Linked DNA regions of Homo sapiens. The protein of the gene in region 1 purifies or fractionates together with the protein of each later gene. This does not show direct contact. Each region holds a gene or a part of one and is shown in the gene's direction. Other genes may lie near its edges.

Evidence for each region.
Region 2: the proteins of DUSP11 (region 1) and MRPL13 purify together in Homo sapiens (affinity purification with mass spectrometry, with the first as the bait; one large-scale study listed by BioGRID). This does not show direct contact.

Annotation. Positions count from the first base shown.
Region 1 is NC_000002.12:73,773,301-73,777,126, reverse strand, and holds part of DUSP11 (RNA/RNP complex-1-interacting phosphatase), read left to right. Parts: intron 1-2,082; coding exon 2,083-2,214; intron 2,215-3,203; coding exon 3,204-3,327; intron 3,328-3,826. UniProt on the Homo sapiens protein: Possesses RNA 5'-triphosphatase and diphosphatase activities, but displays a poor protein-tyrosine phosphatase activity. In addition, has phosphatase activity with ATP, ADP and O-methylfluorescein phosphate (in vitro). Binds to RNA.
Region 2 is NC_000008.11:120,410,436-120,414,261, reverse strand, and holds part of MRPL13 (large ribosomal subunit protein uL13m), read left to right. Parts: intron 1-149; coding exon 150-271; intron 272-3,826.

The DNA of each region.
Region 1 (3,826 bases):
TGCTTGTAGTCTCAGCTGCTCAGGAGGCTGAAGTGGGAGGATCGATTGAACCCAGGAGGTCAAGGCTGCAGTGAGCCATGATCATGCCACTGTACTCCAGCCTGGGCAACAGAGCAAGACCCTGTCTCCAAAAAGAAGGTGTTGGAGACACAGGGAATTTTTAGGGAAGTGAAACTATTCTGTGTGATACTCTAAGGGTGGATACATGTTATATATTGATCAAAACCTATAAAAGGGCTTCACGTATATTAACACATTTCACAACAATCCTGTGCTGATGAAGTAGCAGTAGTACTAATATCTCTTACTGAGTGCTTATTCTGCACTAAGCTCAGAGAATAGATGGTTACATCTAATAAATAATTTTGTAGATAATCAAACAGGCTCAGAAAAGGAAGAATCAAAACTTGAACTTAGTTCTTTCTCTCATTTTTTTTGTGGCAAAATATATATAACATAATATGTACATACAATGCATAACATAGAATGAATCACGCATACCTAACCTCTAGACTTTGGTGATAACGATGTGTCAGAGTTGGTTCTTCATTTGTAACAAATGGACCACACTGGTATGGAATGTGGATAGTGGGGGAGTCTGGGTGGGTTGGGGAAGGCAAAGTACATGTGGGAACTATCTGTCCTTTTGGCTCAGTTTTGCTGTGAACCTAAAACTGCTCTGAAAACTAGTCTATTTTTTTTTTTTTTTTTTTGAGATGGTGTCTCGCTTGTCGCCCAGGCTGGAGTGCAGTGGTGTGATCTTGGTTCACTGCAAGCTCTGCCTCCTGGGTTCACGCCATTCTCCTGCCTCTGCCTCCTGAGTAGCTGGAACTACCGGCGCCTGCCACCACGCCTGGCTAATTTTTTTGTGTTTTTAGTAGAGATGGGGTTTCACCGTGTTAGCCAGGATGGTCTCGATCTCCTGACCTCGTGATCCTCCTGCCTCGGCCTCCCAAAGTGCTGGGATTACAGGCTTGAGCCACCGCACCCAGCCAAACTAGTCTATTTTTTAAAAAGTACATTGCTGGCACCTGAGTAGCCAGACAGATTGAAGGAACAGAGCATAAAGTTCAAAAATAAGCCACATACATAAAAGAATATTCAGCAATGAAAGCCATCCTTCATATATGTAGACATGTGAGAAATATTTATTTGTGAGGCCGAGACAGGAGGGTTGCTTGAGCTCAGGAGTTTGAGATCAGCCTGGGCTACATGGCAAGACGGCAAGACCCTATCTCTTTTTTTTTTTTTTTTTTTTTTTTAAATTTTTTTTTTGAGATGGAGTCACTCTGTCACCCAGGCTGGAGTGCAGTGGTGTGATCTCGGCTCACTGCAAGCTCTGCCTCCCGGGTTCACGCCATTCTCCTGCCTCAGCCTCCCGGTAGCTGGGACTACAGGCGCCTGCCACCACCCCTGGCTAATTTTTTGTATTTTTAGTAGAGACGGGGTTTCACAGTGTTAGCCAGGATGGTCTCGATCTCCTGACCTTGTGATCCTCCCGCCTTGGCCTCCCAAAGTGCTGGGATTACAGGTGTGAACCACTGCGCCCAGCTGACCCTATCTCTTTAAAAAAAAAAAAAAAAGGCCAGGTGTGGTGGTTCATGCCTGTAGTCCCAGCTACTTGTGAGGTTGAGGTGGGAGTATTGCTTGAGCCCAGGAGGTGGAGGCTGCAGTGAGCCATGTTTGTGTCACTGCACTCCAGCCTGGATGACGGATGACAGAGCAACACCCTGTTTCAAAAAAAAAAAAAAAAAAAGAAAAGAAATATTTATAAGCACTAAATATGATAAGCACTCCACCTGGAGCTGGAGATACAGTGGTGAATAAAATCTGGGAGATTACAGTCTGATTAGGAGACCAACATGAAACAAATACAGAAATACATATATAGAAGTGGGCTTATTTTTTTCTTTCTGACCACTCTGGAAGAAAGGATTGTTGTAATATACCTTCTATGTTCCAGGAGAATGGAAACTTTCCTTTGAATCTCGTTGTATGTTAGCATCACAGGACTTGAATAAATGCCTAATGTAGTACAGGATTTTAAGCACATATTTGCTCTTATTTCATTCTCTGTGACAGAGTTTTGAAAAGAAACTTGCTCCAGAAGAATGCTTTTCCCCTTTGGATCTTTTTAACAAAATCCGAGAACAAAATGAAGAACTTGGACTGATTATTGATTTAACATATACTCAACGCTATTATAAACCAGAGGTAAGTGGAACCCTTCAATGAAAAGAACTTTCTTCCTTCTGATCCTAAAATAATTTATAGTAATTCAGTAATCATCTTGTGCTAATGTGAAGCTTGGCCTTCTTTGATGGGTAGTAAGTTTAAAAGAGAACCAAGTGATTTCTCTAATTACATGTTTTTAATTGCTGTCTTAAATGGAATATTATTCAGCCATAAAAAAGAATAGATTTAATACGTGCTACAATATGGATGAACCTTAAAAACATGCTTAGTGAAATAAACCAGACACAGAAGGACAAATATATGATTCCACTTGTATGAAGTACCTAGAATAGACAAATTCACAGAGACAGAAAGCAGACTAAAGGATCTATGAGGTGGGGAGAAAAGGGAATTATGGTTTAGTGGTCAGAGTCTTTTTGTCGGGGATGATGAAAAAGTTTTGGGTATAGACAGTGGTGATGGTTACACAATACTGTGAATGTAATGCCACTGAACTATACACTTGTGGATGGTTAAAATGATTTTGACTTAGCCTCTTCTGTCTTTTATCTGTATCTACTTTTCTCCCACCCCAAGAATATCGGTTCTCAATAGTGCCTGGAATTCCCTCTATCTCACAATTCAAATCCAAGTTCTTCTGACTCTATTCTCTACTCTTCTACTTAAATCATAGCTGCTTTATGAAGGCACTGGCCCTTGAATTATAAAATATTAAATGGAACTGTTTATATAATTTATAGTTAAATATGCATTCATTCACATGGAATTTGCTTTCAGTTTTGTATACCTAGTGACTATCTATTATGTAGTTTTATTGAAAATCAAGTGATACTTCCTGGTTGAAGCAGTGTTGGAAAAAATGGCTCTTTTATCAGAATTGTGTATACTGATATTGGCATATTAAGTTTGTTATAATCTCTTGGCTTATATTCTGGGTCCCCTAATTACTCTTTAATTATTTCTCTACAAGTGAAATAATACACATCTTTTATGGTTTTGCTTTATAGGATTTGCCAGAAACTGTTCCTTACTTAAAAATTTTTACAGTTGGACATCAAGTGCCTGATGATGAGACTATTTTTAAATTCAAACACGCTGTTAATGGGTTTTTGAAAGAAAATAAAGATAATGGTGAGTTTTTGTTCTTACCTGAACTGTGGTGTGCATTATGAATGGGGTTGGGGATTTTTGGTATTTTTTTATAGTTCCAACCTCAGACCTGTTGTATTTAATGATGCTAAGGTGATGAAAATGTCAGATGGTGCTAATAGGGTAAGATGTTTTTCCTTTTGTTGATCACAAATAATTTAACTTTGGAATGTTAAATTAGTTTTAGTGCAAAATATGAACTGAACTGGCTCATCTTTCTTTTTTAATTTGAATGAGAAATATATAAAATTAAAATGTTATTTTTGTCTTCTATATTGGTTAAGAAGTGAGAAGTAGAAGAAAAGATTAAAAAACTCTGAGTCTTAGAGTTATGTGAAAGAGACAAGAAAGGGCAAAGATTAAGAATGGGACGGACCCCTAGAAGCAAAACAAGAAAGAGTGCACCAGTGGAATTGCCCCTTTGTCATATGTATTTAAGACACATGTATACATATGTAACAAACCTGCACGTTGTGCACAT
Region 2 (3,826 bases), on another chromosome or scaffold:
TTTATAAGGTTTTTATTTTAAAGATTTTATGTTTTCCTTATTCTACGAGCATTCTTTTGCTTATTTTTTTAACACTTATGAAGTATTAGTAATTTATTGCTAAGAAAGATATTTTAAGAAAATTAAGTCTAAATTTTTTTTTAATGTAGTATATTCCAGAAGATATTCTTAAGAATTTAGTAGAGGAGCTTCCTCAACCACGAAAAATACCTAAACGTCTAGATGAGTACACACAAGAAGAAATAGACGCCTTCCCAAGATTGTGGACTCCGTAAGTGTTTCCCTTCTTCTTGTTTTTTTTTCTTTTGATATCCTCTGTTTCCTCAACCATATGATTAAATAAGATCCTTGAGGGCGGGAAGAGTGAACTCATTTTTTTGCTCCCCTGGGAACTCAGCAGCTACTACCTACAAATAAACTCTAGATGTAGGTATTAGAACCAAAAATTTTTAAGCATTAAGACCTTGCTAGATAAGTGCGAGGATGTTCATAGGTTCCTATAATTATCAAGTATTTTGTTTGGGCTGATGGTAGTCTTTAGGAATGATATATGAATTGTTATTAATCTAAAACGTAATGATTCTCAGTTTTCCACATTGTTTCATAAGTTAAAAATATTATCTAATGAAAAGTCATTAATTTTGGATACTTGTTGTCTTGGTCCAAAAAGAAAAACAAAATAAAAAAATACTTTTTGCTCTCCTCTGTACAGTTTCCTCTACCTAAGGCCGTAAAGCTGCTAAGATGTAACATTCTTTCTCCCATCTAGTTGTTTCTAGGCTTTTTTGCCAGGGCTATCCAGATGATGAAGCATTTAAGTGTAACTTCCTCAGGCAGTCCTTCCTGTAATCTTTGAACCGGGTTAGGCTCTCATTATGGGTTCTCATCGTACACTTCCATTTACTGATTTACTCTAATTATATATTTGTGTGATTATCTGTTTACTATCTGTCTTTCTTGCTAGACTTCATGAGGGAGCTACATGTTTGTCTTATTTAGCACTGAGCATGGTGCTGGACAAATTAAATAGACACTCAGCCAGTATTTATTGAATAAATTAATTAAGACTTTTATCAGCTTTTATAAGTGACTTTAGGAAAGAATCTCTAGAAAATATGAAGCAAAGACCACTTTTCATTTTTTTCACAGCATTTATCACTATCTACTGTACTCTCATTTATATGTGTGTCTGTTATTTGTCTCTCTACACTCATGGCAATAATAAAAATAGCAAGCACTAATAAAGCATTTATTGTGTGCTTTACATGTATTAATCTACTAATCCTCAGAGCAATCTAGTGAGTCAGTACAATTTTTATTTTTATTTTTATTTTTTAAATGAGAAAATATGGGCACAGAGAGATAAAGCAACTTGACTAATATCACATAGTTATAAATGGTATATTAAGGATTCAAGCCTGAGTGACTAGCTGCTGGGTCATGCTCCTAACTCTGCTGGAATGCCCCTTCTTGCATTGGCATGTCAGCTTCAAGGGGGCAGGGACATTGTCTGGTTCAACATTTACATCTTAGAAATACTTAGAAACCCTTAGAAATAGTACTTGGTGCATAATGGGCACTCAGTAAGTGTTTTGGAAAGAATGAAGACATGAGCTCTTTCCCTAAAAATTAATTGTGAAATTTTCATGAATAGCTTAAGTTTTAGAAAAATCCAAACCAAGGTTCAAATCTTGCCTCTATAGTAGCTGACTCTATAACCTTAAGTAAGTCATCTTTCATTTTGAGCCTTAGTTTCTTCATCTCAACTCAGTTTCTTCAGTTGTAAATTAGAGCCACTCCATACTTCTGAGAATTGCTGGAAGGAGTAAGTGAGCAACTTAGCACACTTGAAGTGTTGACTAAGTTTTTAATAGGAGAATTTTTTTGCTATTGCAAATTCTATACCATTTTAACATGCTTGCTAGTGTAGAGTTTTATTGTAAATGTACTTAAGTTGATGTAGTTTGAAAATATTCAGCTTTGATAAGTTATATACTAAAAACATTTTAAGTTGTCCTTGAAGTTTTGACAGGTTACCTTCCTATAACAGTTCTGTAAATATGTATCTGATTTTCTTACAGAAACACCATCATAAATGAATTTATATTCCTGACCAAGAGGGGTGTGGTACTCTTTTTTTTAAAATTAGAAATAATAAAGTTGCTGTTAAATCATGTATGTGCAAATACATATTATACACTTGAAGTCATATTTCATGAATATTCTAAAGTGTATTCTAAATCAGTTAAACTGGCACCACACTAATATAATAATTCACAAATTATATTTAGTGTTATTATAGTCAGAGTACTGACCAAAATTTTCATTCTGCTGAATGATTTCTGCTTTCTTTTGAAACAAATTAGAAAGTGCCTGAGTGCCTTCATTTTATTAATAGAATTAGAAAGGGCTTTTCTATAGCTATTTTTAAGGAGATTTTTAGAGAAACTTAGAGCCACTAGATGCATTTTTTAGTTACTACTCTGGGAATAGATTTTCCTGCCCTCTCTCTTCATTCCAGATTTCCCTGAGGCAGGAATATGCATTAGACACTAGGTTTTCCTTTATGCTTTATTAAGGTTGTGATTTTTTCCTCATAAATAGTCACACGCATATGTTAACTTGTATTTTCAAAATAGTAAAATAGGTATACGTTTACTGAAACGTATGGATAGTATAGGTGTACTAGTCATTTAATATAAATCATTCTGTATTTCTTTCTCCCTGCACATTTGAGCTGACATCAAGTCCAGTTAGTCTTTATTACGTGAAAAGTGTGTGACCAGGAAAAATATAGTCATTTTTGGATTAACCAAAAGCTTATCTAAGAAATAGATGATCATTTACTTCAAGGCTCTTGAGTAGAACTTTCTACAATGATGAAAACAACTCTCAGCCAGGCATGGTGGCTCATGCCTATAATCCTAGCACTTTGGGAGGCCAAGGCAGGAGTACCTCTTGAGTTCAGGAGTTCAAGACCGGCCTGGGCAAGATGGCAAGACCCTGTCTCTACAAAAACAAAAAACAAAAAAATTAGCCAGGTGTGTTAGCACACACCTGTAGTCCCAGCTACTTGGTAGTCTGAGGCAGGAGGATCTCTTGAGCCCAGGAGTTTGCAGCTGCAGTGAGCCATGATCATGCCACTGCACTCCAGCCTGAACAACAGAGCAAGACTTGTCGAGAGAAGGGGAGGGAGAGGGAGTGGGAGAGGGAGGAGAGGGAGAGGGAAGCCTGGCGCGGTGGATCACCTAAGGTTGGTAGTTCAAGACCAGCCTGGCCAACATGGTGAAACCCCATCTCTAATAAAAATACAAAAAAAACTAGCCGGATATGGTGGTGGGCACCTGTAATCCCAGCTACTCTGGAGGCTGAGGCAGGAGAATTGCTTGAACCCGGGAGGCGGAGGTTGCCGAGATCGCACCATTGCACTCCAGCCTGCGTGACAAGAGCAAAACTCCATCTCAAAAAAAAAAGAGAGAGAAAGGAAGGAAGGAGGGAGGGATGGAGGGAGGGAGGTAACTCTCTATTCGAGCTTCAAATACATTAGCTACTGTTGACGTGTGGCTCTTGAGCCCTTGCACTGTGGCTAATGTGACTAAGGAACTGAATTTTTTATTTGATGTAATTTTAGTAAATAAAATTACGTGTTAGTGAATAAAATTACGCTACCTTCATATGGCTAGTGTCTACATTATTGGACTATGCTATTTTAGTTATTGGACTATGCCATTTTATAAAGTTCTATTAAATATTATATACTTTAGAATTAGAATTAAAATATTTGATATGCCATGCAGTTCAATTCATGGAACATGAGGTTTTTATT